Linked DNA regions of Homo sapiens. The protein of the gene in region 2 purifies or fractionates together with the protein of the main gene of each other region. This does not show direct contact. Each region holds a gene or a part of one and is shown on either strand. Other genes may lie near its edges.

Evidence for each region.
Region 1: the proteins of PRMT3 (region 2) and PARP8 purify together in Homo sapiens (affinity purification with mass spectrometry; one large-scale study listed by BioGRID and IntAct). This does not show direct contact.
Region 3: the proteins of PRMT3 (region 2) and PEAK1 purify together in Homo sapiens (affinity purification with mass spectrometry, with the first as the bait; one large-scale study listed by BioGRID). This does not show direct contact.
Region 4: the proteins of PRMT3 (region 2) and HIBADH purify together in Homo sapiens (affinity purification with mass spectrometry, with the first as the bait; one large-scale study listed by BioGRID). This does not show direct contact.
Region 5: the proteins of PRMT3 (region 2) and SEPTIN14 purify together in Homo sapiens (affinity purification with mass spectrometry, with the first as the bait; one large-scale study listed by BioGRID). This does not show direct contact.
Region 6: the proteins of PRMT3 (region 2) and RO60 fractionate together in Homo sapiens (co-fractionation; one large-scale study listed by BioGRID). This does not show direct contact.
Region 7: the proteins of PRMT3 (region 2) and HACD3 purify together in Homo sapiens (affinity purification with mass spectrometry, with the first as the bait; one large-scale study listed by BioGRID). This does not show direct contact.

What each region holds. Positions count from the first base shown.
Region 1 is NC_000005.10:50,665,224-50,669,436, reverse strand, and holds the start of PARP8 (protein mono-ADP-ribosyltransferase PARP8), read right to left. Parts: upstream 2,801-4,213; 5' UTR 2,552-2,800; coding exon of another isoform or gene 2,440-2,551; 5' UTR 2,353-2,439; coding exon of another isoform or gene 2,342-2,352; coding exon 2,251-2,341; intron 2,024-2,250; exon of another isoform or gene 1,864-2,023; coding exon of another isoform or gene 1,836-1,863; intron 1,367-1,835; coding exon 1,312-1,366; intron 1-1,311. UniProt on the Homo sapiens protein: Mono-ADP-ribosyltransferase that mediates mono-ADP-ribosylation of target proteins.
Region 2 is NC_000011.10:20,488,716-20,492,215, reverse strand, and holds part of PRMT3 (protein arginine N-methyltransferase 3), read right to left. Parts: intron 1-3,500. UniProt on the Homo sapiens protein: Protein-arginine N-methyltransferase that catalyzes both the monomethylation and asymmetric dimethylation of the guanidino nitrogens of arginine residues in target proteins, and therefore falls into the group of type I methyltransferases.
Region 3 is NC_000015.10:77,179,105-77,182,604, reverse strand, and holds part of PEAK1 (inactive tyrosine-protein kinase PEAK1), read left to right. Parts: exon of another isoform or gene 1-202; intron 203-564; 5' UTR 565-678; coding exon 679-3,500. UniProt on the Homo sapiens protein: Probable catalytically inactive kinase. Scaffolding protein that regulates the cytoskeleton to control cell spreading and migration by modulating focal adhesion dynamics. Acts as a scaffold for mediating EGFR signaling.
Region 4 is NC_000007.14:27,540,884-27,544,383, forward strand, and holds part of HIBADH (3-hydroxyisobutyrate dehydrogenase, mitochondrial isoform 1 precursor), read right to left. Parts: intron 2,218-3,500; coding exon 2,084-2,217; intron 1-2,083.
Region 5 is NC_000007.14:55,859,953-55,864,145, forward strand, and holds the start of SEPTIN14 (septin-14), read right to left. Parts: upstream 2,801-4,193; 5' UTR 2,736-2,800; intron 2,060-2,735; 5' UTR 2,045-2,059; coding exon 1,991-2,044; intron 1-1,990. UniProt on the Homo sapiens protein: Filament-forming cytoskeletal GTPase. Involved in the migration of cortical neurons and the formation of neuron leading processes during embryonic development.
Region 6 is NC_000001.11:193,058,325-193,062,411, reverse strand, and holds the start of RO60 (RNA-binding protein RO60), read right to left. Parts: upstream 2,801-4,087; 5' UTR 2,636-2,800; exon of another isoform or gene 2,550-2,635; coding exon of another isoform or gene 2,414-2,549; exon of another isoform or gene 86-2,413; intron 1-85. Other genes in the region: UCHL5 (ubiquitin carboxyl-terminal hydrolase isozyme L5), read left to right, coding at 2,414-2,549. UniProt on the Homo sapiens protein: RNA-binding protein that binds to misfolded non-coding RNAs, pre-5S rRNA, and several small cytoplasmic RNA molecules known as Y RNAs.
Region 7 is NC_000015.10:65,557,963-65,561,462, reverse strand, and holds part of HACD3 (very-long-chain (3R)-3-hydroxyacyl-CoA dehydratase 3), read right to left. Parts: intron 2,784-3,500; coding exon 2,732-2,783; intron 1-2,731. UniProt on the Homo sapiens protein: Catalyzes the third of the four reactions of the long-chain fatty acids elongation cycle. This endoplasmic reticulum-bound enzymatic process, allows the addition of two carbons to the chain of long- and very long-chain fatty acids/VLCFAs per cycle.

The DNA.
Region 1 (4,213 bases), on a different chromosome or scaffold from region 2:
ACTCTGTTTTTAATGGGCCACTTTGTATATTTTAACTGTTAAAATAATCCAAGAGGATATTAGTCATATACGAAGATCCTTTAGATATAATGTGTAGGACCAGCGTTAATTTAATCAACCAAGTCTCCTCTCATTGAATTATTAATTCATAATTACAAAGATGACATTACAGTAAATTAAGAAATACTGTAATTTCATTCTCTCCCAAAAAGTATACACTTAAGTTTGGTGATTCACTGTTATATTTTCAACTAGTAAATCAATGTGCTAATTCTGGGGCTTAGGTATATTGCATATACTGGAATGATATTCACTTTAAATGTTTTGAGATGTATAATGTAATACAGATCCTACGTGTTTTTAAAAGTTCACATCAATTTCAAGCTTTTAAAAATGTATGTACACAAGAAAGCTTCTTTTGCAATTTATATGTTTATAAATGTTTCCATTAGCTAAGATATATTTTGGAATGTGATCAAACAATATTGAATGTCAAGTCCTAACAGCAGGGCTGGTCTAAGGAATTCCCTCTAAGCTAAATCTGGTACTTCTCATATGTGGCTACTGCTCTTTTAAACTACTGTGTCCCTAAAGGGCTAAAAGGAAGAAAATCCTAACTCAACAAGTGAAGGTAGCAAGGCATAGTATTTGAATGGCTACCTTTCATTTTAACTCTACTTCCTAAATTCAAAATTGGATTTGGGTTTGTTTCAAGTTGTTCACAATTTACTAACGAAATGTGCATCTCTCATTCTTCCCCCAAAAGAAAGAAGTCATCCACTCCAGCTACATATAAGTCTCCAATTTCTATACGTGAAAACCGAAATACCACTCATTGAAAAAAAAATGTACAGAGAATTGGCAGGCTGCATGTTTATGTAAACCTTCAGAAAACATGGAAACACGCAGCCCCAACTCACCAGGAAAATCAACACTTCTGATCAAACTATTTTGTGACATTTTATGTCTTTTATACATTTCACTTCATATCCAGTATTCCAGTTTTGCACCGGCGTGCCTGTATCAACCCCAAATCGCCTGAGAGCAATCTAGTACTGTAGCAGAACAGTTTCAACATGAAGAGTTCTGCTCATTGCCTGTGGCGTGGTCCTCGAAACACCTGAATCAAACATTGATTCCCCTCCTCCTGCTATTTAAAACCGAGGGACGTCAGGCTTGGGTAGCAGGTAAAGAAAAGCCACAATAATCAAACAAACAAGCAACCAAAATACCCGAACACGGAACACGCTAAGAACAAAGGAAACACAAGAGTGTGAACAGGAAATGAAGCAACTCTATACACATAAATACCTTCTGGGGCCGCCAACGTAGGTAAAAGTAAAGGTGGAGTCAGAGTATCTGAAATCTGAAACAGAAAGTCCCGTCAAAAGCTACCCCTGGAGTGGATTTGTTTTAACCCCGATCAGGACTTGAGCCCCACATTCGGTGGTGTCAGGGGAGGCCTGGCCGGGCAGAAGGCAAGGGCTAGAGGGCGGCGAGGTCCCTCTGCGCCGCGTCCGAGGGGATGCGGCGCGCCCCCGACTGGGTGCAGCGGGAGGCCGCCCCCCGCAACAAGTGCCGGGTGCCATGGCAACAGCGGGAATTTCCCGATAGGGGAGGCCGGAAGCAGCCTCAGCCGGGCTCGCGGTAGCGAAAGCAAAATCCCGGGGGAGCAAAATGGACGAAAGGCGACCCCCAGGCAGGGGCGCTGGGTGCCTTGGGAATCCGAGGAATCCCTTCTCTTTGCCAGTCGGAGGGGACTAGAGGGAGCCGAAGGGGCCGGAGATGGGCCGAGCGCTGCCCCCCGGGGGTCCTCGGCGCCGGGCGCAGCTTACAAGCGCAGCGCAGCGCAGCAGGCTCCATTCCCGGCCGCCGCCGCTCAGCCCATTGCGCAAACCAACCCCGCTCTGCCGCCGCTGCTGGAACCCAGGAAGCGTGCTTGGAGGCTTCGGGCACTACGCGGGGCTGGAAATACCACGCACTGCCCCTTCGCCTAGACCCCCGCTCCGGCCACGCGGGCTCTGCCCTCAAAGCTGGTGGCTGCCTCAGACTTGGCGGTGGGGGAGGGGAAGGGGAGAGGCTGGCGCCCCCTCCCCCTTTTGGCTCCCGCGCTCGTTGCAGCAGCTGTTGCCAAATGAACCCCAGAATGGGGACGTGCAACCCTCCACCCCACCCCCAGCCACAGACGTCGCGGTCAGAAAACTGGGAAGGGGGCGCTGGGTCCGAGGTTCTGGAAAAGCAAGAACTCACCTGCAAACAGGCAGTCCTTCTCAGCTCTGGACTTCTGGATCACGACGTCGATATCCTTCTGAATTCGCTCTTGCCTTGAACACATCCCCATTAAATAAATCCCTGGAAAAGAAGCAGCCGCTATTTCCACCCCACCCCACCCCCCTCGCACGCTTCCAGCTTTCGTAAATATTCAGTTAAAAATGAAACCTCTGGCCGAGGCAGGGGCTGAAGGCGAAGTGGTTTCGGAAGTGATCCTGGGTGAGAGAAGAGGAGGAGGAGGAGGGGGAGGAGGAGGAGGAGGGGGAGGTCGGCTTTGCATTCCCAGATGTGACCGCCCAGCTGCTGCTCGCCGCTGCTGGATTCCAATTTCCTCCCCTTCTGACAATGGATGGTGATGACACCAAGTCTCACTTTCTCCCTCACCCGCCCGGACCAACGGCCGTGGGGGCCGAGGTGCCGGGGACAGCCAGAGAGCAATCACCGGCTGGGCGGCGGGCGCCGGCGAGGGGCGAGCCCCGCTCCGGCTCACGCGCGCACACCCCTCACGGCTCGCACGCCGGCCTTCCACACCCGCGCACACTCGCGCCCGCGGGCGGCGGCAGCCGTGCCCAGGCTGCTGCAGCGCCGCCCGCCCGCCGCAGACCCTCCGCGCCCGCCGCCTAGTCACCCCGCCGGCCGCGGGCTGCCGGGGCTCGCAGAGTATTAGCCATCCCGGGCGGGAGCCGCTTCTCCCCACACCGACCTCCACTCGCGCCGGGAGCTGAGCGGTCGTGAAGACTCCCTGGGGCTCCCAGCCTTCCCTCTCCGCGCCCCTCCCCCCATCACTTTTATGAATTCGACTCCACTTTCTAAAGGAATTATAGTCTTGTGGCAAACCCAAACCGGAGTGGCTGGGAGGGGGAAAAGGGGGGAAAAGAAAATCTTTAAAAATTAAAAAAATAATAAAACGAACAAATCTTTCCTTATTGCCACATCACATAACACGGAAAAGGCCTTAAAATTACTCCAGACGTGCACCCTCCCCTTCCCTCAGTGCCTGAGTCTTTTTCCTCCAGATCGAAGTAGTTCAGCCCTTTTGGGGCGCCGTTTACGAAACACAGCCCCTTTTGAGGGACTTCCTCCTCTTGAAACTCACCAGTTCTCCCTTCCTAGGTGTTTCTGTTCATGAGAAATGGTCAGAATCAACTGGCACGTTCCAGGGTCTTCCTAAAAGATGGAAACCTGTTTGGCTTGATTTTTAAAACCACCTCCTTTGACAGTCAAGGGAAAGCTACAATCCAGGTGTTCAGAAATGAGATACTGCTCTGATTCTCACTTTCTGTTCTGCCTAAGGACACCCCAGGCTGACGTAGCTGCCCCACCTCTATATTGGTTTATGCCCTAGGAGAGGTCTCCAGCAGGCACTTTTCTTGTTGATCTTTTCTCCACTGAGAAGGCTCCCGCCAGTAGACCATGACTCCTTTTGCTTTGCATACTCAGTGCCATGTACAGTGCCTGGAATACAGGAGGGTGGCCTAAATGTTGGCTGAATGCACGAATGGTCATTTCTTGCAGCCTCTTTTCATTACCCTGTCTCATCACTTTTCTTATCAGCATAAGTGCCCAAGAGTTGCCAAACTGTTTCAGACCCTTAATCAATTTAGTTCTGATTCTGACCGTGACAACATGATGTTCAGCACGGTAGGAATGACTGCCATCCCTGAAGGAGTCTTAAGATTCTGTAGAATCAATGAAAGATCCTATGTTCTAACTCCTTTATCTTTCAGGAAACAAATTACAAAATAATTTCCTTGTCCAGTCATATTCACTATGAGTTACAAAAGGAAACATTCTGCATTATTGAGATCCACTGCAGCCTTTGATGTAGTAAAGCCACAGTCACAACAGTCTATATCTCCTGCTCAGTCCTCTCCTGAAATGCTTCCTGTTTAGGGTAGGACAGGTTCAAGCCCTTTGTCCTTCCTGGATATGTTGCTTTGTG
Region 2 (3,500 bases):
CTGGCCCATAGGATACAATACAATACAATATTTGATGAGCAAATGTGTTTATTATACATTCTGTTATGTTAGTTACGATAGTATATTACAGTTTGCCTTATACTGCAATTTATTTAAGAGCAAGGCATATGTATAACTCACTTCTATGCCCCTTACCCAATACAATGTTATATAGTAGGTTCTCAATAAATTTTAGCCAAATTAAAATTTTTAGTCTTCAGTCTCAAATATGGCTAGCTTTATTACATAGTCAGTATACTTTATTAAAGCATTGACTAACTGAACTTGAATGGAACTAATAATTTTTAACTCTGAAAAGCATGGAACATGTGGGACAAATATGGAGAGGAGAGAGCTAGAAAAGATCTAATTCTGTATGTAGGAAATGCAGAAGTCTCAGCCTAACCCCCAAATTACGCATTTTCAGGTGAGATCCAAACCCACACAGCAAAAGCTTAGAGCATTGAACTAAAATTTGAATCACTGCTGCAAGTCTCAGGATTAACCTCTGGATAAAACATGCATGGAAAAAAAACCGAAACCAACAAGTAAAGGCCTAGAGAACTGACGTGAGATTGGAAAAATCTGTAAAAGTCTCAGACTAATCCGTAAACTAGGTATGTGTAAGACAGCCTCAAAACAGCATAACAAAGGCTTAGAGAATGTGACTGAGACTTGGTCAACTGTCTGCTCGGACACTAAGACAGAACTTATGGTCTGATTTTAACTGGGCTTGACTGCTAACAACAAACATCAACATCCTTAAGATTTTAACAAGACACACAGTTTACACAACATAGCATGCACAACATCTAAGGTGCAATCTCAAATTACTCAACATACAAAGAATCAGGAAAATTGAACAACTCTCAGGAGAAAAGACAAGCCACCTCTGAGATAATCCAGATGCTCAAACTATCAAGCAAAACTTTAAAGCAGCAATTATAACCATGTTCCAACGGTGACAGAAAACACAATGGAATGAATCAAAAGACAGAAATTCTCAGCAGAGAAACCATAAAAAAGCACCAAATGAAAAATTTTCAATTGAAAATTATAATAACTGAAACTTCCGGGTTGAATAGCAGAATGGAGATGACAGGGAAAAAATCAGTGAATTTGAAGATTGATAGAAATTATCCAATTTGAAGAAGGGAAAAAGACAGCAATTAAAATGCATGTTATAGAACCTTGGAGACCTATAGATCTAACGTGTCATTGGTGGTCCAGATGGAAAAGAAAAAGACACTGATGGAGAAAAAAAAGTTTTAAAATTCTATATCTAGACAGAATGAATGAAGGCATTTTCAAGTCAAGGAAAAGTAAAGAAATTCATTGCCAATAGACTTCCTCTAGAAACATTTTAAAAGAAGTTCTTCAGAAGGTAAACTGGAACAACAAGAACAGAAAACCCATAGTTCTAAAACATCCTTTTGTTTTCAAAATTTTTAGTGTACCTTTTAAAATTGTTTTAAACTCATGTAACAGCCTCTCATCTTTCTGTAATTATACTTCTATAACTGTTATATTTATTGCCAGTCTTTTTTTAATCAGAATTAGAAATGCTTCTCTTCATGTATCTGAAGATGTCACAAAAGCTGCTTTTAAACCCAAATTTTCACAAAAGCTCTTATTAGCTTACTAGGATTTATTTTTCCCCACATTTTTTGGGGGGCCTCCCAAAGCACTGGGATTACAGGTGTGAGCCACCACGTCCAGCCACACATGCTTATTAATCAATCTCCAAATCTGTGTATGAATTTCAGTTAAAAATTTCCAGCCCTTAATAATATAGTGAAAGAAATACTGGGAAGTTCTGGGTAACCAAAAAATAAGTTTTAAGACAAAGAAAAATGACAGATATAGTTAACTTCAGTTGTAAGCACTGGAAAGAATCTATGACAAATATCTGAAATTGCATCTATGTGAAATGCCTCACAGTATCTTTGAGTCTTCAAGCACAGTCACATTTCTAATGAGGTTTGGTTTACAGTAATACTCAGTTCCACAGCACACATTAAACAGAAAGCAGAAGCATGAGGAGAAGTTAGGAAGGAATTCACCTAAAATTCAAACTGTGTGCAGATAATCTATCTACTCACTAGACAGCATTCGTACAGTTGAGAAAGTGGAAGATTGCTGCTCTGAAAAAAACAAAGGGAGTTTCTGGTTTTAAAATGGGTGTCTACCCTCAAACACCAACATGATCTAGAATGCCCCTTAAAGAGACAGGGTTTGTGGTGTTACCTTTTTTTCTTTTCTTTTCTGTGTGATTCTTATTTTTAAAAATTTTTATTTAATTTTAGAGATGGAGTCCCGCTATGGTGCCCAGACTGAAATCAAACTCCTGGGCTTAAGGGATCTTTCTGCCTAAGCCTCCTGAGTAGCTGGGACAACAGTTGCATGCTACTAACTCTTAATTAAAAGAGATTAAGAAAAAAAAAAACCCCTTCAATTTGAAACATAGTAATATAAAACCAAATGAATTATGATTAGTGTTTTTATTTCTGCAAAGCTATTAAATAAGGAATAATGATATAACCAAATATCAGCTGATTTAGGAATAAATGACTTATTTTGTCAGGAAAATATAAACATGCCACTATTTTCAATTACAGTTTGGCCACCTTGCTACCATCACTTTGACAGGCTATCTTAACATCTTTTAAATGTTAATTTCAATGAATATACATTATCTCTGTGGAAGTCATTCAAATATAAGAATAAACAACCATAGGAAATAATGACTAATAGGCAATGGCAACAAATAACTAACTGGAGCTACAACTTGACATATGCTCGTAAAAGATCAGAGAGGTCTGAAGGCTGACTGCAGAAGAAATTTCTCCTTTGTCTCACGTATATATCTTGTTGGGGCAATGAGAACTGCTGAGGGGGAAAAAAGCATTAAAATCTATCTGTAGGAGTTGGGTTAATCTGCAAAGGCAAGGTCACAGTTAAATAAAATTTCACTGAATTATACCACAGTCAGAAAAATTTATAACTAAAAGTTTAGTTATAAAAGTCCCTTAGAGTGAGAGAAGGGAGAATGAGTGGTAAGTAGTAAAAAAACAAAAACAATGATAGAAGAAAACAGAATGAAAGGAAACTACGTATACATAGTGAATTTCTGGGATAGCTTGATCACTCTTGATATTTTGTGAGAATCCTCGACAATTACTTTGATGCACATAGGAAAATACAAGCATGGAGCTCTGTTGTACATCTTAAATATTCCTCAGCATGTAATAGTTTCAGAACTCATCTTTTTGTGGATTTCACAAAAAGAAAACTCATGGCATTTGTAAACTGAATCATGAAAAAATCTGTTTTAAGCCATGTTTTGTTTATATGTATAAAGGTAAATGCAGTTCATTTAATATACACTCATTTGAAGAACAATGATTTGGGATAAAAAATGACTTTCTCAGGTATTTTAGTGTGATGAATATTTCTTTAAAGAGGACACATTGTGTGTATGTAATAGGATGGCAACCAAT
Region 3 (3,500 bases), on a different chromosome or scaffold from region 2:
AATTTTTATATTTTTTTTAGAGATGGGATTTTATCATGTTAGCCAGGCTGGTCTTGAACTCCTGGGCTCAAGGGATCTTCCCACCTTGGCCTGCCTCCCAACATGCTGAGATTACAGGCATGAGCCACTGCACCCAGCCCCGAAGCTTCATTTTCAATGCATTGAGTTTGAGGAGTCTACGAAATGTCTAAAACATTCAAGGGTAGGTGGAAGAAGAGGAATCTATAATGGGCTGGGAAGTGTTAGAGAAATTGGTGGATAACAGAAGGAGTGGTATCAAAGGCATTTCTGGGAGGGAAGGTCACAGAATCATTGCAACAGAGACATCAAGCTGAAGATTATGTATGGATAGATAAGAGTGCATAAAATTATAGTTAAAAAGCTCACTTTCCAAATGCTGATTGGCTAAAGGGAAATTACAAAGTACACAAATTAGTTTAGCTCTCAGTCTTTTAATTTAAGGAAAAGTTTAGGAATGGAGTCAGTTTTTTCAAGTCACTAATAATGGTAAGTCTCATAGTGCCTTTTTCATTCAGATTTTTTGTCTTCTTTTCCCCTCCACAGATTGATCATTCTTAGAAGAGCTGCTGTAACACATAGGGGAAGTGAAAACTAACAGATGAAAGTTTTGTCATGCACTGAAAGAAAAGCATTGTCTGTGAAGTTCTATTTTTAAAAATGTCTGCTTGTAACACCTTTACTGAACATGTTTGGAAACCTGGTGAATGCAAGAATTGCTTTAAACCTAAAAGTTTGCACCAGCTTCCCCCAGACCCTGAGAAGGCACCCATCACCCATGGCAATGTGAAAACTAATGCCAATCACAGTAACAACCACCGCATCAGGAACACGGGCAATTTCCGGCCTCCTGTGGCTAAAAAACCCACTATAGCTGTGAAGCCCACTATGATAGTGGCAGATGGGCAAAGTATATGTGGTGAGCTTAGCATCCAAGAACACTGTGAGAACAAACCTGTCATCATAGGGTGGAACCGAAACAGAGCTGCCTTGAGTCAGAAACCACTTAACAATAATAATGAAGATGATGAAGGAATTAGCCATGTTCCTAAGCCTTATGGCAATAATGATAGTGCAAAGAAGATGTCAGATAACAATAATGGACTAACTGAAGTGTTAAAGGAGATAGCAGGCTTGGATACTGCCCCTCAGATAAGAGGAAATGAAACAAACTCCAGAGAAACATTCTTGGGAAGAATAAATGATTGCTATAAACGATCATTGGAAAGAAAGCTTCCACCAAGTTGCATGATAGGTGGGATAAAGGAAACTCAGGGCAAGCATGTTATTCTGAGTGGGAGCACAGAAGTGATTAGTAATGAAGGGGGCCGGTTCTGTTACCCAGAGTTTTCCAGTGGCGAGGAGAGTGAAGAGGATGTACTTTTCAGTAACATGGAGGAGGAGCACGAGAGTTGGGATGAGAGTGATGAAGAGCTGTTGGCCATGGAGATTCGCATGAGAGGGCAACCTCGCTTTGCCAACTTCAGAGCAAACACATTGTCTCCTGTTCGATTCTTTGTGGACAAAAAATGGAATACCATCCCCCTGCGAAACAAGTCTCTGCAGAGAATCTGTGCTGTGGACTATGATGACAGCTATGATGAAATCCTGAATGGTTATGAGGAAAATTCTGTGGTCTCTTATGGACAAGGAAGCATTCAGAGCATGGTGTCATCTGACTCCACATCACCAGATTCTTCTTTAACAGAAGAATCACGTTCTGAGACAGCCAGTAGTTTATCCCAGAAGATTTGTAATGGGGGATTATCTCCTGGTAACCCAGGAGATTCTAAGGACATGAAGGAAATTGAGCCCAATTATGAAAGTCCCTCTAGTAATAATCAGGATAAAGATTCATCACAGGCTTCCAAAAGCTCAATAAAAGTTCCAGAGACCCACAAAGCAGTCCTTGCTCTCCGATTAGAAGAGAAAGATGGCAAGATTGCTGTACAAACTGAGAAGGAAGAAAGTAAAGCCTCTACAGATGTTGCTGGGCAAGCAGTAACCATAAACCTTGTCCCCACAGAAGAGCAAGCAAAACCTTACCGAGTTGTGAACCTGGAACAGCCATTGTGCAAGCCATATACTGTCGTGGATGTGTCAGCAGCCATGGCCAGTGAGCACCTCGAGGGCCCTGTTAACAGCCCCAAGACAAAAAGCTCATCCTCTACTCCAAACTCTCCAGTTACATCATCTTCATTGACACCAGGACAAATAAGTGCCCATTTCCAAAAATCCAGTGCAATTCGATACCAAGAAGTATGGACTTCTAGCACCAGTCCACGACAAAAGATACCTAAAGTAGAACTAATTACTAGTGGAACTGGACCAAATGTTCCTCCAAGGAAAAACTGTCACAAATCAGCACCTACATCACCCACAGCTACAAACATTTCCTCCAAAACCATCCCTGTTAAGTCACCTAATTTGTCTGAAATTAAATTTAATAGTTATAACAATGCTGGTATGCCACCTTTTCCAATTATCATTCATGACGAGCCAACTTATGCTCGGAGTTCCAAAAATGCTATCAAAGTTCCCATTGTTATCAATCCAAATGCATATGACAATCTAGCTATCTACAAAAGTTTTCTGGGAACAAGTGGAGAACTCTCAGTGAAGGAAAAAACCACAAGTGTAATAAGCCATACTTATGAAGAAATAGAAACAGAAAGCAAAGTGCCTGATAACACCACTAGCAAAACCACTGACTGTCTTCAAACTAAAGGGTTTTCAAACAGCACAGAGCATAAAAGGGGCTCAGTGGCTCAGAAGGTTCAAGAGTTTAACAACTGTCTCAACAGAGGTCAGTCTTCACCACAGAGAAGCTATAGTTCCAGCCACAGCTCCCCAGCAAAGATCCAGAGAGCCACTCAAGAGCCTGTGGCCAAAATAGAAGGCACTCAGGAGTCTCAGATGGTGGGCAGCAGCAGCACCAGAGAGAAAGCAAGCACAGTGCTTTCTCAGATTGTGGCTTCAATCCAACCCCCACAGTCTCCTCCAGAAACACCTCAATCTGGCCCTAAAGCTTGCAGTGTGGAAGAGCTTTATGCCATTCCTCCAGATGCTGATGTTGCTAAGAGCACACCTAAGAGTACGCCAGTCCGGCCCAAATCTCTCTTTACATCTCAGCCTAGTGGTGAGGCTGAAGCACCTCAGACCACAGACAGTCCTACCACCAAAGTACAGAAAGACCCATCCATAAAGCCAGTCACCCCCTCTCCCTCCAAATTAGTGACTAGCCCCCAAAGTGAGCCACCAGCTCCCTTTCCCCCGCCACGCTCTACTTCTTCTCCTTACCATGCAGGTAACCTTTTGCAGAGGCATTTCACCAACTGGACCAAGCCAACCAGCCCTACCAGGTCAACAGAAGCTGAATCAGTTTTGCACTCTGAAGGCAGCAGGCGGGCAGCTGATGCAAAACCTAAGCGCTGGATATCATTTAAAAGCTTCTTCCGCCGTCGGAAAACAGATGAGGAGGA
Region 4 (3,500 bases), on a different chromosome or scaffold from region 2:
CCATTGATGGAAACAATCCAGAAACAGGGTTCTCATCGTCCAGGCCTTCTTGCTGTACAACCAAAAGACAGGCAGCTGGTATTTATCTTTTCACTTAAAGCCTCAGAAGTTAGCAACTTTATAGATAAGGGCAGTCCTGATTTTCAACCCAACTGCATTTGTACAAAACAGTAGAGTTAGCCTATCCTTTCCTGCCTTAAATCCTGGTGCTGCTTGCTTCTCTTCCTAATAAATGTCCTTCGAGCATCCTTTTTTTTTTTTTTTTCTCCGTAATAGGGCACTTCTGTCTGCATTAAAAACTCATTCAGGCAGATATACTTTCTCTTCAATGATTTTTTCTTAATGGCGCCTGGGAACTGTCTGCTGTCTCTTGGTTGGCAGAAGCTACTTCGCCTATTTCTTGACATTTTTTAAGCAAACCTCTTCCTAAAATTATCAAACCATCCTTTGCTGGCATTAAATTCTCCAGCTTTAGATCCTTCACTTTCTTTTTGCTTTAAGTTGTCATATTTTTCTTGAATCATATTAGATGTAAGTATGCCTTTCTACAGCAATCCTGCATCTACATAAAAGCTGCATTTTCAATGTGAGATAAAAAGATGTTCTGCAAAAAGTGCAAGCCTGCTGGAGTAGCTGCAGTGATGGGTTCATGACTATTCTTTTCTTTGTTTACAATGGTCCTTACATTGGATTTGTTTATCTTGAAATGGAGGGCAAACGCAGCCGCAGACCTCAATCCATGGTATGTATCAGGCAATTCAACTTTTTCTTGTAATGTCATGACTTTTCTCAGCTTCTTAGGAGCACTTCCAGCATCACTAGTGGCACTTTGTATGGGTCCCATGGTGTCATTCAAGGTTTATGGTATTGCACTAAACATGATAAAAAAATACAAGAGAATTCCAAGAGATCAATTTTTACTATGATACACAATTTACTAAAGAGATGAACCACTCACACAAAGATGATTAGTGTCACATGACATTTTATGCTCAATACTTGTAACACTTGAGTTCACTGCAATAGCAACAGGTGGCCACAAAATTATTACAGTAGTACAGTATTACTAGAGTTAATTTTATGCCATTATGATTTAATGCATCTTTACATTTCTTTACATTTCTCTCAACTGTAAATGGTGCCATGTATGGTCTATAAATATTTGTAAACTTTGATAAATTTTAACTCTTTATAACAGATTTGTGCATATTTATAAACTAGTATCTATCTACATATATTTTATGCGTTCACGACATATCTAACTTTTTCTTAATGTTTTTGATATTTCTAGGCCATGTGGTTCATCTGTTTTTTCAAACTGTCACAAATCTTCAAAAAAATTTTCAATATATCTATGGAAAAAAAATAGATGTATAAGTGGGCCCATGGAGTTCAAATCTGTGTTGTTCAAGGGTCAACTGTAATTACAAAATTAGATGGAGGAAAATAGCAACTCAGAAACAAGCACTTCGAATAAGAGCAGTTTTAAGGATGATTTCACTAGTTGCTGGGATGACAGACATGTCAAGATCCTAATAATGAATTTTTTTTCCCGTTTTTTTTTTTTTTTTTTTTTTTTTTGAGATAGGTTCTTGCTCTATCACCCAGGCTGACTGCAGTGGCTCTATCATGGCTCACTGCAGCCTCAATCCCCCACCCCTGGGCTCAGGTGATCCCCCCACCTCAGCCTCCTAAGTAGCTGTGACTATAAGTGTGTGTCACCACACTCGACTAATTTTTTTGTTCTTTGTAGAGATGGGGTCTTACTATGTTGCCCTGGCTGGTGTCAAACTCCTGGGCTTGAGTGATCCTCCTGTCTCAGCCTCCCAAAGTGTTGGGATTACAGGCATGAGCCATCACGTCTGGCCAATAATGGAAGTTTTTTAAATAAGTAAATTGGCTGATGTCTGCTTAAGCCCACCAGGAATGATGCAAAACTAATTTATTCCAAATAAATGTTTTAAAATCTGAGCAAAGAATCCATAGGTTGAAGAAAGAAGAATAAAAATATGGTCAGGAAAGAGAAAGGAACATTAGTCAATTTTACATCATCAAGTCAAGGTCATTAATGTAAAAATCTTACCTGCCCAGTCCCAACAGCTCCACAGTACACCACGTTGGAGCCCATGCACCCCAGCAACTCTTGGGCAGCAGCAAATTCATCTTCAACTCCTCCCACCATAAACGTGAGGTTCCCAGATCGTGCAGCTCCTACACCTGAATCATTTGGGGGTAAAGGGATAGAAGCAAAAGAATATATTTCTTAAAATGTTTAGGCAGGTAATAAAATTAGAGAAACCAACTAAAAACATCCTGCCTCCAATCTGTATTTATGCCAGGCATGTATAAGATACTCTAAATCTCTACAGAAATATTCAGCAATCAAGTATCACCCAGATTAATCACAAACCAAGAGAGACATACAGATTCAGTTGTACTCTCAATCTCAACTCACCTTAATCATTTTGGCACAATCATGGCCTAACAGATAAGGGAACTTAAAATGTAAATGTTATTATTCCCATGCATCTATTATTCTCCTAAGAAACCTACTAAGTTATAGAAAGTATACAAAAAAAAAGTTTTACCTGGGCCCTGATCAGCAAAGGAGCAGCCAGAGAGAGGTCTGCTGCCCACGTTTGGATTCGGGGTTCTTGCTCACTCACCCACTCTCCAAATACTATCTATAAGTGAGATCTACAAAGAGGGAGACCTGGCTCTTTGTTCCTTAAACAAGTAGGCATTTCAGATGGTAGATTCTTTTTTTAAGGCAAGGAAAACTTTGCTTATTTTGACTGATTATTCTCATATGTACTTTTCAATATTATTTGATTTTTCTTTTCCTTCCTGCTATACATCTTTTGGGCAATTTATTTTTAGTGATATGAGCAAGAAGAAGAAATAAACTTTAACACTGACTTCACTACTCCTTAGTAGCTTTTAACAGAGGCTTAATGCATGTTCATTCATTCTAATGATTGGAGAAAGAACCTTCAATTTAGCACAGAAAATATAATCTAGACTTGTCCTAAAAGGGAGAGGAAAAGCTTCATTCATCTAAATTTTTATTAACTATAAAATAAAACCAAGAGCGCTATTACTGTTTTTAATATTGAAAGAAATCTTGATTCATAATTTTCAAGTTAGGCTTTATTTTTCAAAACTTCCCAGGCAAGTATGTGGAAGAACTTATTTTACAGTACAGTAAGAACAAAGAAACTGTAATTGTCTGTAGTATGTATCAAATCTGGCCATTAGACAGCTGCAGGTAATGGCCTGCTTTTGGATTTAATGTGTTCAATGAAATACAGTATTTATATATTTTTTAAAAGCCCAAGTGAAGAGATACCTATTTCATTCAAATTGTGAATATTTTGCTATTGTCAAATCAAATAGCTTTCTATTTTACAGTTTATACTATTCATAAGCAATTATTAAAAGCCAAAAAAGTCAGCATTATGCTAGCCAAACAATCTTGGAAGAGTGAGTGCCCACATGTT
Region 5 (4,193 bases), on a different chromosome or scaffold from region 2:
GTGGATCACCAGAGGTCAGGAGTTTGAAACCAACCTGGCCAATATGTTGAAACCCCATCTCTACTAAAAATACAAAATTATCCAGGCATGGTGGCGCATGCCTGTAATCCCAGCTACTTGGGAGGCTGCGGCAGGAGAATCAATTGAACCTGGGAGGCAGAGGTTGCAGTGAGCTGAGATCATGCCATTGCACTCCAGCCTGGGCAACAAGAGTGAAACTCCATCTCAAAAAAAAAAAAAAATACAATTTGGCCACACAAAAAAATGAAAACCTGTCATTTGCATTAACATGGATGGAACTAGAGGTCATTATGTTAAGTGAAGTAAGTCAGACACAGAAAGACAAATATGTCACTCATATGCATCAGCTTAAAAAGTTGACCTCATAGAGGTAGAGTAGAATGATAGCTACCAGAGGCTGGGAAGGGTGTGTGAGTAGTGGGGGGATGAACAGAGGTTGGCTGGTGGGTTCAAACATTCAGTTAGGCAGAAGAAATAAGTTCTGATGTTCTATAGCAGAGTAGGGAGACTATAGTTTATAACAATGTATTGTATATTTCAAAATAGCTAAAAGAGGGGATTTGAAATGTTCCCAAAACATAGAAATAATAAATATTCCAGGTAATAGATACATGAAGCACCCTGACTTGATTATTATGTATTCTATGCATATAATAAAATATCACATGTACCCCATCAATATGTATTAATATTACATATCATTTAAATTTTTTAAAAAACAGAGGGGTCCTTGGAGAGGTAATTAGGTCATATGGCTCCACCCACATGAATAGGACTAGTGCTTTTATAACAGAAGCTTGAGGGACACTGTTTGCTTCTCCTGCCATGTGAGGACACAGCTAGAAGCCATTTTTGAAGCAGAGAGTAAGCCCCCACCTGACACCAAACCTGCTGGTGCTTTGATCTTGGACTTCCCATCCTCTAGAACTGTGAACAATGCATTTCTATTGTATATAAATTACCAAGTCTGAGGTATTTTGTTATAGCTGCCCAAACAGACTAAGACACTTGCTAAAGATTTGTTGCTAGCATTTGCATATCAGCATTTGCATAATGTTTGACTAATTGGCTTTTGGGATCCCTTCTAATCCTAAAATTTTATGTTTTAGAGTCATGTGAACAAAGGAGTATTAACCATGATTTGTTAAACAAGAAAGCCCAAAGATAAAATGGAATGAGCATAGGCCAATGTTTCAGTCCCTGAGAAATTCCTCTGATGGTTATTCATGAAAAGCAATGACAGGCCAGGCGCAGTGGCTCATGCCTATAATCCCAATACTTTGGGAGACTGAGGCGGGTAGATCACCTGAGGTCAGGAGTTCGAGACCAGCCTGGCCCACATGGTGAAACCCTGTTTCTACTAAAAAAAAATCCAAAAGTTAGCCAGGCATGAAGGCAGGTGCCTGTAATCCCAGCTACTTGGGAGGCTGAGGCAGGAGAATCACTTGAACCCAGGAGGCAGAGGTTGCAGTGAGCTGAGATCACGCCACTGCACTCCAGCCTGAGCAACAGAGCCAGACTCAGTCTCAAAAAAAAAAAAAAAACTTGCTCTAACCTCACACTCAGTAAAGCAATCAGCAAGCAGCCATCCAACCATTTGCTAAAATAACTTCATTAAAAAATTATTTATTGTCAGTGCATACATTCTGCAAATATATCCATCAAAACAGCACTGTTCTTCTCATTTATTGGGCGATTCAGAAGTTTTACTTTGAATTTCTTTGGTGTTAAGTAGAAATAGTCTGTTGCACTGCTAACAAGGTCATCGGACTCAAAAAACATGTAACAATTATCTAAATCACCATTGATACTTAAAACTCCAATTAGTATAAAAGCTAATTCATGCCCAAACATAACAAACAAGACTTTATCTTCTATGCCTACATCAGTTTTCCAAGTCAATATTTTTAGGCTATATAATCTTATTGAAGTACAAAATGCAGAGTTATATTTGAAAGATATACTTAACTGTATCTCCATCAGCAGGTATTTGTGTGGGCATAGCCATTGTTCTTTCTGCCATGCTACACTAAAAGAGCTGGAAATTTAAAAAAATAAACATTTTTAAAAATTTCTTACAAAGGCTATATTCTTACTATATAATTTAGATAATTAGGGGGCATAATATGGGTATTTTTGCAAGCTTTAGTTTTTAGTTCACACTATTCATCTGTTTTAAACTGTGGCTGTCTTGCTAGATGGGCTTCTACATGATGAATAATATGTAATATTCAACTTATAATGTAGAGTAATACATTTAACCATAAGCACACAAAAAGCATCTTAAAGTTAAACTCCCTTTGGAAATCAAGAGGATAAGAGCATTCTTCTTCTTTAAATGACTCCATGGTCGTAAGAAAGGAAAGTAGAAAATTTTGCTTTAAAAAATGGTTAAAAAAAAAACAAAACAAGACACTCACAAGCACTTAACTTTCCAGAGTAGCATACCAGAGGAGGCTTAGGCATTTGAATTTACCCATTGAAAGAGAATTGTGAAAGCAGACCTTAAAAAACCTAAACAAGTTCTTTAGACACTGAACTAAAATAATGATAATTCTCATTTATGAAGCATCTATTATACAGCTAGCATTGTGCTAAGGGTTTATGTGCTTTATTTACCTCTGTTAGTCCTCATAGTAGATCTGAGATGTATGTATTTTCATTGCCATATGCCAGGTGAAAAAATTCAGACTCAGAAAGATTAAATAACTTACTTTCCCAGGGATTCAGCTGTGCAGCAGACACAGGTCCGAACTGATTCCAAGCTGGTGTCCTTTCTACTGTCCCCAGTTGTGGACCAAATAAATATTCACTGTGTTTGTAACAGTTGGGAACAGGGAGGAGAGGTACAAGAGAGCGTGCTGTGCTCATCTCCAAGCAGAACTGCCTGAGAAGGCCATGCTACCCTACTTTTGAACACAGCACAGAGATACTAAGAATATGAGACATGTTTCAAAAGGAAATATTATATATTTATAAAGCAAGTATTTGAAATATTTGAGAAGCAAACAGAATCAAAGAATGGTTCTGTGCCATAATCTCTTCACTTGCTCTATCCTGAGGATTATTGCACTTTAGTATACAAACGTATATCATTTTCCCTAAAATTAAGCAATGTTTTCTGATATAGATAGAGTTCTGTTTTGTGGTGTGGTTTAATCTAGACCAGTATGTATGAAGGTTTTTAAAATTTATTTATTTATCAGAAACTTAATGGTGGACATTGCAGTAATTTTGAGCCTTTTTTTTTTTTTGCTCTACCTCCTGGGTTCACACCATTCTCCTGCCTCAGCCTCCCTAGTAGCTGGGACTACAGGCACCCGCCACCACGCCCAGCTAATTTTTTGTATTTTTAGTAAAGATGAGGTTTCACTGTGTTAGCCAGGATAGTCTCAATCTCCTGACCTTGTGATCCACCTGCCTCAGCCTCCCAAAGTGCTGGGATTACAGGTGTGAGCCACCGCACCTGGCCAGTAATTTCTAGCCTTTAATGGAAATCAGCAACAAACATTGTTGATTTAAGTCAACAATGTTTGGCCAGGCACAGTGGCTAACACCTATAATCCCAGCACTTTGGGAGGCCGAGGCAGGCGGATTACTTGAGGCCAAGAGTTTCAGACCAGACTGGCCAACATGGCAAAATCCCATCTCTACTAAAAATACAAAACTTAGCTGGGCATAGCGGTGCAGGCCTGTAATCCCAGCAACTCAGGAGGCTGAGGCACGAGAATTGCTTGAACCCAGAAGGTGGAGGTTGCAGTGAGCCAAGATCCCGCCACTGCATTCCAGCCTGGGAGACAGAACAAGACTCTGACTCAAAAAATAAATAACAATGTTTATTTAAATCAACAATAAATATTGTTTTTGAAATACTGTAGTAATTTGAAGTAAACTACTACAAAATTCAAGAGTCTCTATCTCTGTATAATGACTGAATTTTTGGCAAATCTGCCAAAAATTATTTGAGAACTAGAGATGCAACTTATCTTGTATTTAAAAGCCTAATTAAGTGTCTTAAACAAAGAGGGGTTTATTTCTTTCACATAAGTCTAGAGCAGAAGTTTTTCAAAGTACGATCACTGGGCCCTGAGGATTCCTGAGATTCTTTTGCGGGGGGCCTATGGGTTCAATTTTTTTCTAATAATACTAGGGTTTTTTGTTTTTTGTTTTTG
Region 6 (4,087 bases), on a different chromosome or scaffold from region 2:
GCACCAATACAATTGATTACACAAAAATTATATTTAGCCCTACAATTTTTATATTTGACTTTTAAAAGCAATTTGAGATACCCACAAGACATATACAGCAACTTAATTTCTTCTTTCTCCAACTGCCATCATCTCCTGCCTCAAAGCTTAAGCTCCATTATCAGTGGTTTAGAAGGCAATTGGGCAGTGAGTGAGGTCAGAACCTGGTCATCAGTTAATCCATTCCTGGATAATCAAGTGTTGTAAATCCAGATTAACAACAAAAAGATATAGTTAATTCTTTGGATGGGCCTGACCTATCTATCTAGTGCTCTTAAAACACACCATACAACTAATGTTGTATTAAATCTCTATAAATTAAGTTCTTGAGAAGTTAAATATTACAATACTATAATATTAAAAGCATGGACACTTTTTTTTTTTTTTTTGAGACAGACTCTCACTCTGTCACCCAGGCTGGAGTGTAGTGGCGCGATCTCCACTCACTGTAACCTCCGCCCTCCGAGTTCAAGCGATTCTCCTGCCTCAGCCTCCTGAGTAGCTGGGATTACAGGCGCCTGCCACCGCACCCGGCTAATTTTTTGTATGTTTAGTAGAGACGGGGTTTCACCATGTTGGCCAGGCTGGTCTTGAACTCCTGACCTCGTGATCCACCCGCCTGGGCCTCCCAAAGTGCTGGGATTACAGGCGTGAGCCACGGTGCCCGGCCAAGCATGGCCGCATATTAAATTGGTTGTGGATATTTTATACAATGTCCATTTCTCTACTTTTAAATTTAATTTAGAATGCAAAATCAGGAAATGCTAGTAACACACATTATATAATAGCACTTGTTTCACAATCATCAGAACTACAGCATATACAGTATCTTTTATCAGTACTAATGTGTTATTTCCAAGGAATCCTACATTTTTCTTGAATTTACACATCTCAATATCTTCCAAAGTCTCTTTATAATTTATTTGAAAATGCTGCCTTTCATCTCAAGAAGTCAAACACATTTGCAGATTATTCCTTTTTAAATGAAGTCAAAGCTGACATATCTATGAGAGTGCATGACAAATGTAAAGAAACAACAATAGAAAATTGGGCCCATGATAGAGGTTTGTTTACCCATGATACAGGTATCTGAATCCACTGATCAATGTGATGCTATAAAAACTGATGAGGAAGGAACTGTGGCAAAAATGACAGCATGCTAGTCTGAGGGGAGCTGCCAACTGGTTGCCACGTGGTATGGAACTAGTAGTTGCCAGATCTCATTTTTCTCAAAGACCCAGAAATCTGGCTTTTTATGTAAACTCTCAGGATTAAACGTTAACATAATGAAAGGCATCTTAACCCCCTTCTCTGCTTACTTCTAGATTGTGCCAAAGGCTAAATTTTCAGTTTGGTCTTTCTACAATAGGTACCATGTTAATTAAGTTGGGTATCAAGTACATTTTAGTTTTGATGTATTTTGCACAGAAAACATTTTCAAGTTCATAGCAATATTACAGATTAAAAAAAATACCACAAACTACTTTGGGCTCTGATGCCAATCATTCTGGACTCTGTGCCTCTTAAACTTTTCCAATAAAGTATCTCAAGGAAATATACTGTACAGAATCCTCCTAGTCTCCAAGTTGAGGGCAGAGTTTCCGGAGATAAACTTCAAGAAAGTTACAAAAAAAATTTTTTTTAAACCAACACTTCATACAAATTTTGGCTTCTACCCCATAGCGTACTCAGGCTCCTTTTAATACAAAAGCTGCTCTGTTGCTTCCCTCAATAAAATTTACCACGTTTATTTCATGGCTTCACATAATCTGTAGCACAAGGCTCCCTAACTCCAGGGCACAAGTCACCTATTTGAGAAGGAAGGAGTCAGAGTTTTACCCACTAAAACATTTTTTTTTTCTGGAAGCCAAAGGTCTTTCTTGGAATATGTAGCTTTTAAGGAGTAAATATACACTTAACGACTTCAATATACTCTTAAAAACTTTAATCTTAACACTATAGTATTCTATAAGAGCCTGCTGAATGAGGGCAATTTAGTAAATATTTAGTAAATATTTGGTTTAACTCATCATCCAGTTTTAGAACCATTCCAAATGTTTTTAGATTAATACACGACATTTGTTTTCAACCTAATTTTCCCTTGACGCACCGCATCCCCTTCCACTAGTCTAGCAGCCCCATGGACAAACCTTTCTCCTCTCCCTCGTTATTCCTCTGTGATAAATTCACCCTGTCTTCCCACAAAGATCCTTCTTCCAAAACCCAGATCCCGGGCGACGCCTCTCCGCGCAGAAGCCGCGGGAGAAGGAGGAGAAAGAGGAGGAGTAAAGCAGGCCCTCTCGACGTCGGCCTGTGGGGAGCGATGCCGACAAGCAGGAGCGGTCCCGGCTTCGGAAAGGGCCCACCCTGAGGAATGGTCCGGCCGGGCCTAGCGAGGATGTCCCTACCGCGATGCTGGTTCCGTTACCCAGGGTGGACAGGCGCGGAAGCGGGACGGGGAAGAGCGATAGTTTCGCGGCGTTTGCCCAGCCTCAACCCCTGGGATGCGGGTGAGAGACATGGAGGACTGGTCAGAATTTGCGCGTCCCTGGGGCCGCACAAAAGGCTCCCAGCCGGCCTCCCGCAATGTCCTCACCTGTACCTGGCAGCCGACCCCCTGGATCCGCAGCGCCGCCAGGAGAAGTCCTGCGCAGCGCTGGGAAACGACAAAAGAAGGCAGCCTGACGGGCAGCGACAGCCACAGCAACAGCAACAGCCCCACTGCCGCCGGGGATTCCAGGTTCGGTTCCCGGGAACGAGTCCTGCCCCTCTTCTTTTGCCCCGCCTCCGCCCCAGAGGGGCGAGGATCCCGGATGTTGCCTCCTCGGCGCTGTGAATCACCGCCCTTTCTTCTCAGGCCCCAGCCCTTCCGAATCCGCTACGGGTGCTGCAAGGCCTGGGAAGAGTTTCGATGTCTCTAGGGTGGCTAGAGCGTCCTCCCGCGCTCAGTCGCGCTGCAGGTGACGGCGCCCGGAGGCTGTCGGGAAGTAGGCGGGGTGACGTGTGGTTGACGAGCTCGGCGGCGGGTTTGCTGAGATCTGTGGCCGGCGGCAGCTGGTGCGGGGGGCAGCTGAGAGCGAGAGGTGGATCGGGGCGGTGTGTGGCCAGGGCCATGACGGGCAATGCCGGGGAGTGGTGCCTCATGGAAAGCGACCCCGGGGTCTTCACCGAGCTCATTAAAGGATTCGGTGAGAACCAAGGGGACCGTCCTGGGCCTGGGGTCACGGGAGGAGGCCCAAGCTGGGCATGGAGTGGTTCCCTGCGGCCACCGCCGCCCCGCGTCTGGAGAGGTGACTTCAGGAACCTGGAGTCCGGGTGGGGGAAATGTAGATGTTCTGCCCTCTCCTCAGCTCGAGACAGTCGCGTTTCCACAGTAATTTGTAGAGCCACACCACGAGGGCAAGGATCGTGTCAGTCTTGTGCCTGCTGCATCCTCAGGACCTGGCACCCAAATCCTGTAATTGACTTGAGGGCCCTCGCTCCCCAAGCTCTTAAGCACGTATTGCCCTTTGCACTGCCCCTTCTCTGCGGCGCGCACCTTATCCCGGGCTGGTGAGGTCAAGTGCATTGCTCAGGCCATTAGTCCTGCAGAAGCCACCCTAGGGTGCGCCTTCTCAAGGGTGAGGTGTCTGCGGCTCAAGCCGCCCAGGAACTCGAGATTCTGGTTATTCAAAGCAGAACGCCTTGAATGTGTGAATAGCTCTTCGGGACGTCCACACACGCTGACTGCGTGGGCCTGAAAGGCCACTTCACTGGTTCCGCTCTCTGCTCATTTCTGGCTTCCGGTGAAGTGAGTTTTCTTGAGCTAGTGTTCTAGACTAGAGGCCACATGCTTTCCTCACAGTTTCTCTCTGGCTGTATTTAGTGCCTTTCGTCCTAAATAATCAACACATTTTACTTTTTATCCTTCCCTATTTATCTTGTTCTTAGTCTCTTCTTTGGACAGTACGTTTTTATCTATTTCCCAAGTGTTATTGACTCTACGATGTTAAAACTTTTACGCGGGATTAACAATTAAACGTTGATGTAGATATTGCCTGTTGTACAC
Region 7 (3,500 bases), on a different chromosome or scaffold from region 2:
ACAGAGTCTTGCTCTGTCACCCAGGCTGGAGTGCAGTGGCACAATCTCGGCTCACTGCACGCTCCACCTCCCAGGTTCAAGCAATTCTCCTGCCTCAGCCTCCCGAGTAGCTGAGATTACAGGCTTCCGCCACCACGCCCGGCTAATTTTTGTATTTTAGCAGAGACAGGGTTTCATCATGTTGGCCAGGGTGGTCTTAAACTCCTAACCTCAGGTGATCTGCCCACCTTGGCCTCCCAAAGTGCTGGGATTACAGGCATGAGCCACCGTGCCTGGCCCTCCAGTCATCTTAATATAATCCATAGTTTCTTCTTTTCTGGAATTTCTTTAAGGTCACTGAGGTCAAACTAGCTCAAAGAGACAGATACAGTAAATGAAAAAAACAACCCTGATATTTGGTTATATATTCACTCAACCAAGCATTAACTGAATACCTACAATGTGCAAGGTACTGTGAGAAGAACTACTGGGATACAAAGGTAGTTCAAGGCTGCCCTCAGAGCTTACAATCTAAAAACTGTAATACCAGGTGGGGAGTAACAAGTAATGTCTTGTGAAACTTTCAAGGTGAAAAAACGACATTAGGCTGGAGAAGTAGGCATCAAGCTAGTCTACATGGATAAAGCTGGTATCTAATCCGGGCTTTTTTTTTTTTTTTTTTGAGATAGGGTCTCACTCTGTTCCCAGGTTAGAATGCAGTGGTGGGACCATAGCTCTCTGCAGCCCTGACCTCCTGGAGTCAACCCATCCTCCCACCTCACCGCCCAAGTAGTTAGTTCTACAGGTCTGTGCCACCACACCTTGCTAATTTTATATTCCATTATGTTTTGTAGAAACACAGTCTTGCTACGTTGCCCAGTCTGATCTCGAACTCCTGGCCTAAAAGATCCTCCCGCCTCAGTCTCCCAAAGTGCTGGGATTAGAGGCATGAGCCATCATACTTGGCCTGATCTGGGCTTTGAAAGATGGGCAGACTGAGGACATAACCAAAGCAGGACAATTTCAAACCAACATGCAGGAAAATAAGGGACATTAATTTTATCTGCAGCCTAAGATTCATGAAGATACAGCCAATTACAGAGTAAAGGAAGAAACAAGAGGCTTTGACAGAGTCATTGTTGAGTCAAAGGAGTAGGGTAAAGAAAAGGACAGTTCTTAAGAGGAGATCTATGGTGTTCAGATTTTGCTGCTACATATTTATTCCTAGGCTACAGATATTCTGCAAAGACATCTGGTTGGTCCTCAAATAATCACATTTAATAATGTGGTCAATCAAAAGCAGCCTAAGCCAGGCACAGTGGCATATGCCTGTAATCCCAGCTACTTGGGAGGCTGAGGTAGAAGGATCACTTGAGCCCAGTATCTTAAGATCAGCCTGGACAGCATAGCAAGACCCCATCTCAAAAAAAAAAAAACAACACAGCCTTATCCTAAGACTCCAAAAAATGTCAGACTTCTAGCAACATTTAGCTAATTAAAAGTTATTTCTTCAAAACTACAAAAATCTATTACACTTCCCCACCATAAAGAACTTCCTTGTTCAGAAAACTTTATGAATTTAGGTAAAACAGTTAAAGCTTTACCTAACACCCAAAAAATCCATATATTAGAATTTTTATCTATTTTTGAAGTTTATCCCTTTAAGACACCAAAACATTAATTTAAATCTCAAAGTGGCTTTTTTATGTTGTTATTCTTTGCCTCCACTGAACCTCTCCCCTCCTCGGCTTTCCTGAAAGAATATTCCCCTAAGGTAGTCGCTATTCAAATATTTTTTAAAATTCCTTCTCAAAAGAAACCTTATTCGGAATGCCAACACATAACACTCAAAAGAGAGCTGCTCTGACTGAGGTAGACCTGTTTGTGTGATCTACTCCTCCAAAGCATCTCTGGGAACCCCCTGGGGCACCATGGAACACAGTTTGAAAACTACTGCTCCAAAACTTTCCCCTCCCTTATTTATGGCATGCTAGATAAGTACCACTAAAATTTGAAAAATTTCAACTTAGAACAAGTAAGAAGGACTTATTTCATTCTGCTTTTCAGAGGTAGTTTTACATACACCTGCAGTTCCCTCACTAAGAATGTAAGCCCTTTTGAGTATAGGCGCTACGATGGATCCCTCTGGCTCTTAGTCAAGGGCCCAGCACAATGCTTGCCACACAGCATGACTTTAACAGATAGCTGCTGAATTTAATCTAACTACATCACCCAGAAGATAATACACTTACAGAGCTTCCTGCTTAAAGTGGTTAGACGGAAACAGAAATTGATTTGTTAAAGGTTAATGAATAGCAGGACTACACAGAATACTCTCCATCTTTCAGGCTGACAACCACACTTATGTATCATACAGCCTTTGAGATTTCAGCTGGGAGAAAAACACCAGGCTGAAGGAGTGTAGCCTTGGATCCATGCAATCATTTCCACAAGTCTCTGCAGGATTTGGTTGCCATCTGCCATGAGGCCAGTCCAGGAGTTCTTTCATTCTGCTACACTAGCCTTGGTGTACTCATGAAATAACAACCAAAACACAAAGGACACATTAAAGGTAAGGATTCTGACGTGGGTAGTGCAGACCTTAAGCACTGGACCTAAAAGCTTTTTCATAAACTCACCCACACAGCTCACCGGGATGAAATCATTAGCTCTCCTGCCACATCACAATTATCCATACTTCCAACACTAGCACAAGTTAACTGGTAACTACCATGGCAGCAGCACAACTTACTTTCAGGAGAGCCTTCGCTTTCCAGTCGGAGTTTATTTAGGCGCTCTTCTTCCTAGAATTTAGACAAAAGTTTTCCAAGAACACAAGTTAGAATTCCCAGATGCTTGCAAAAGTCCATATGCTGGCTGAGTAATCTGACTCCCTCAAAGCCAACTCCTCCAGTTGGGGTCAGTGCATCATTGGGAGAATATTCTAGGTCATAGGGCCAAACGCCTGACTCCTGCTTACTAAGCAGCATTAGCATCACAGGTGCCCATCCATTGTTCACAAAATTAACCCAGTGAGCTGGCTTCCAAACTGACAAGTGACCTTGGAATCTTAAAGCTGGAAAGGACATCCAGAAGATCTGTCGCAGTCAGAGAAATAAAACAGAAGTTTAAGGCAGGAGGTAGACTGCTATTTTATTTTTCAAGACTTCTAGAATTTTAGTATAATTTTTCCAGAAGCTAAGATCATGTTTCCAACATCACTATGAACTCACGTTTAGCTTAACAGAGATACAGATGGATCCATACAGAAATATTTACAGGTGTATGTGTATGCATGGGTTACTATCCAAACATATATTTTCTTGTTCTGTCAGTGAAGAGAACTTAAAGGCAATGGCAACCTGGTAGCAATGAGCATACCCGGCACCCAGATCTTGGTTTCCAATGCTATTCCACAATAAGAACAGAGATGCTTGAAGAAATGGCTGTTCCAGGGCTGGAGCAGGAAACATACATGCAAGATAAGCCTGGAGCAGCTTATACTGCCAGAAAGTAAGGAA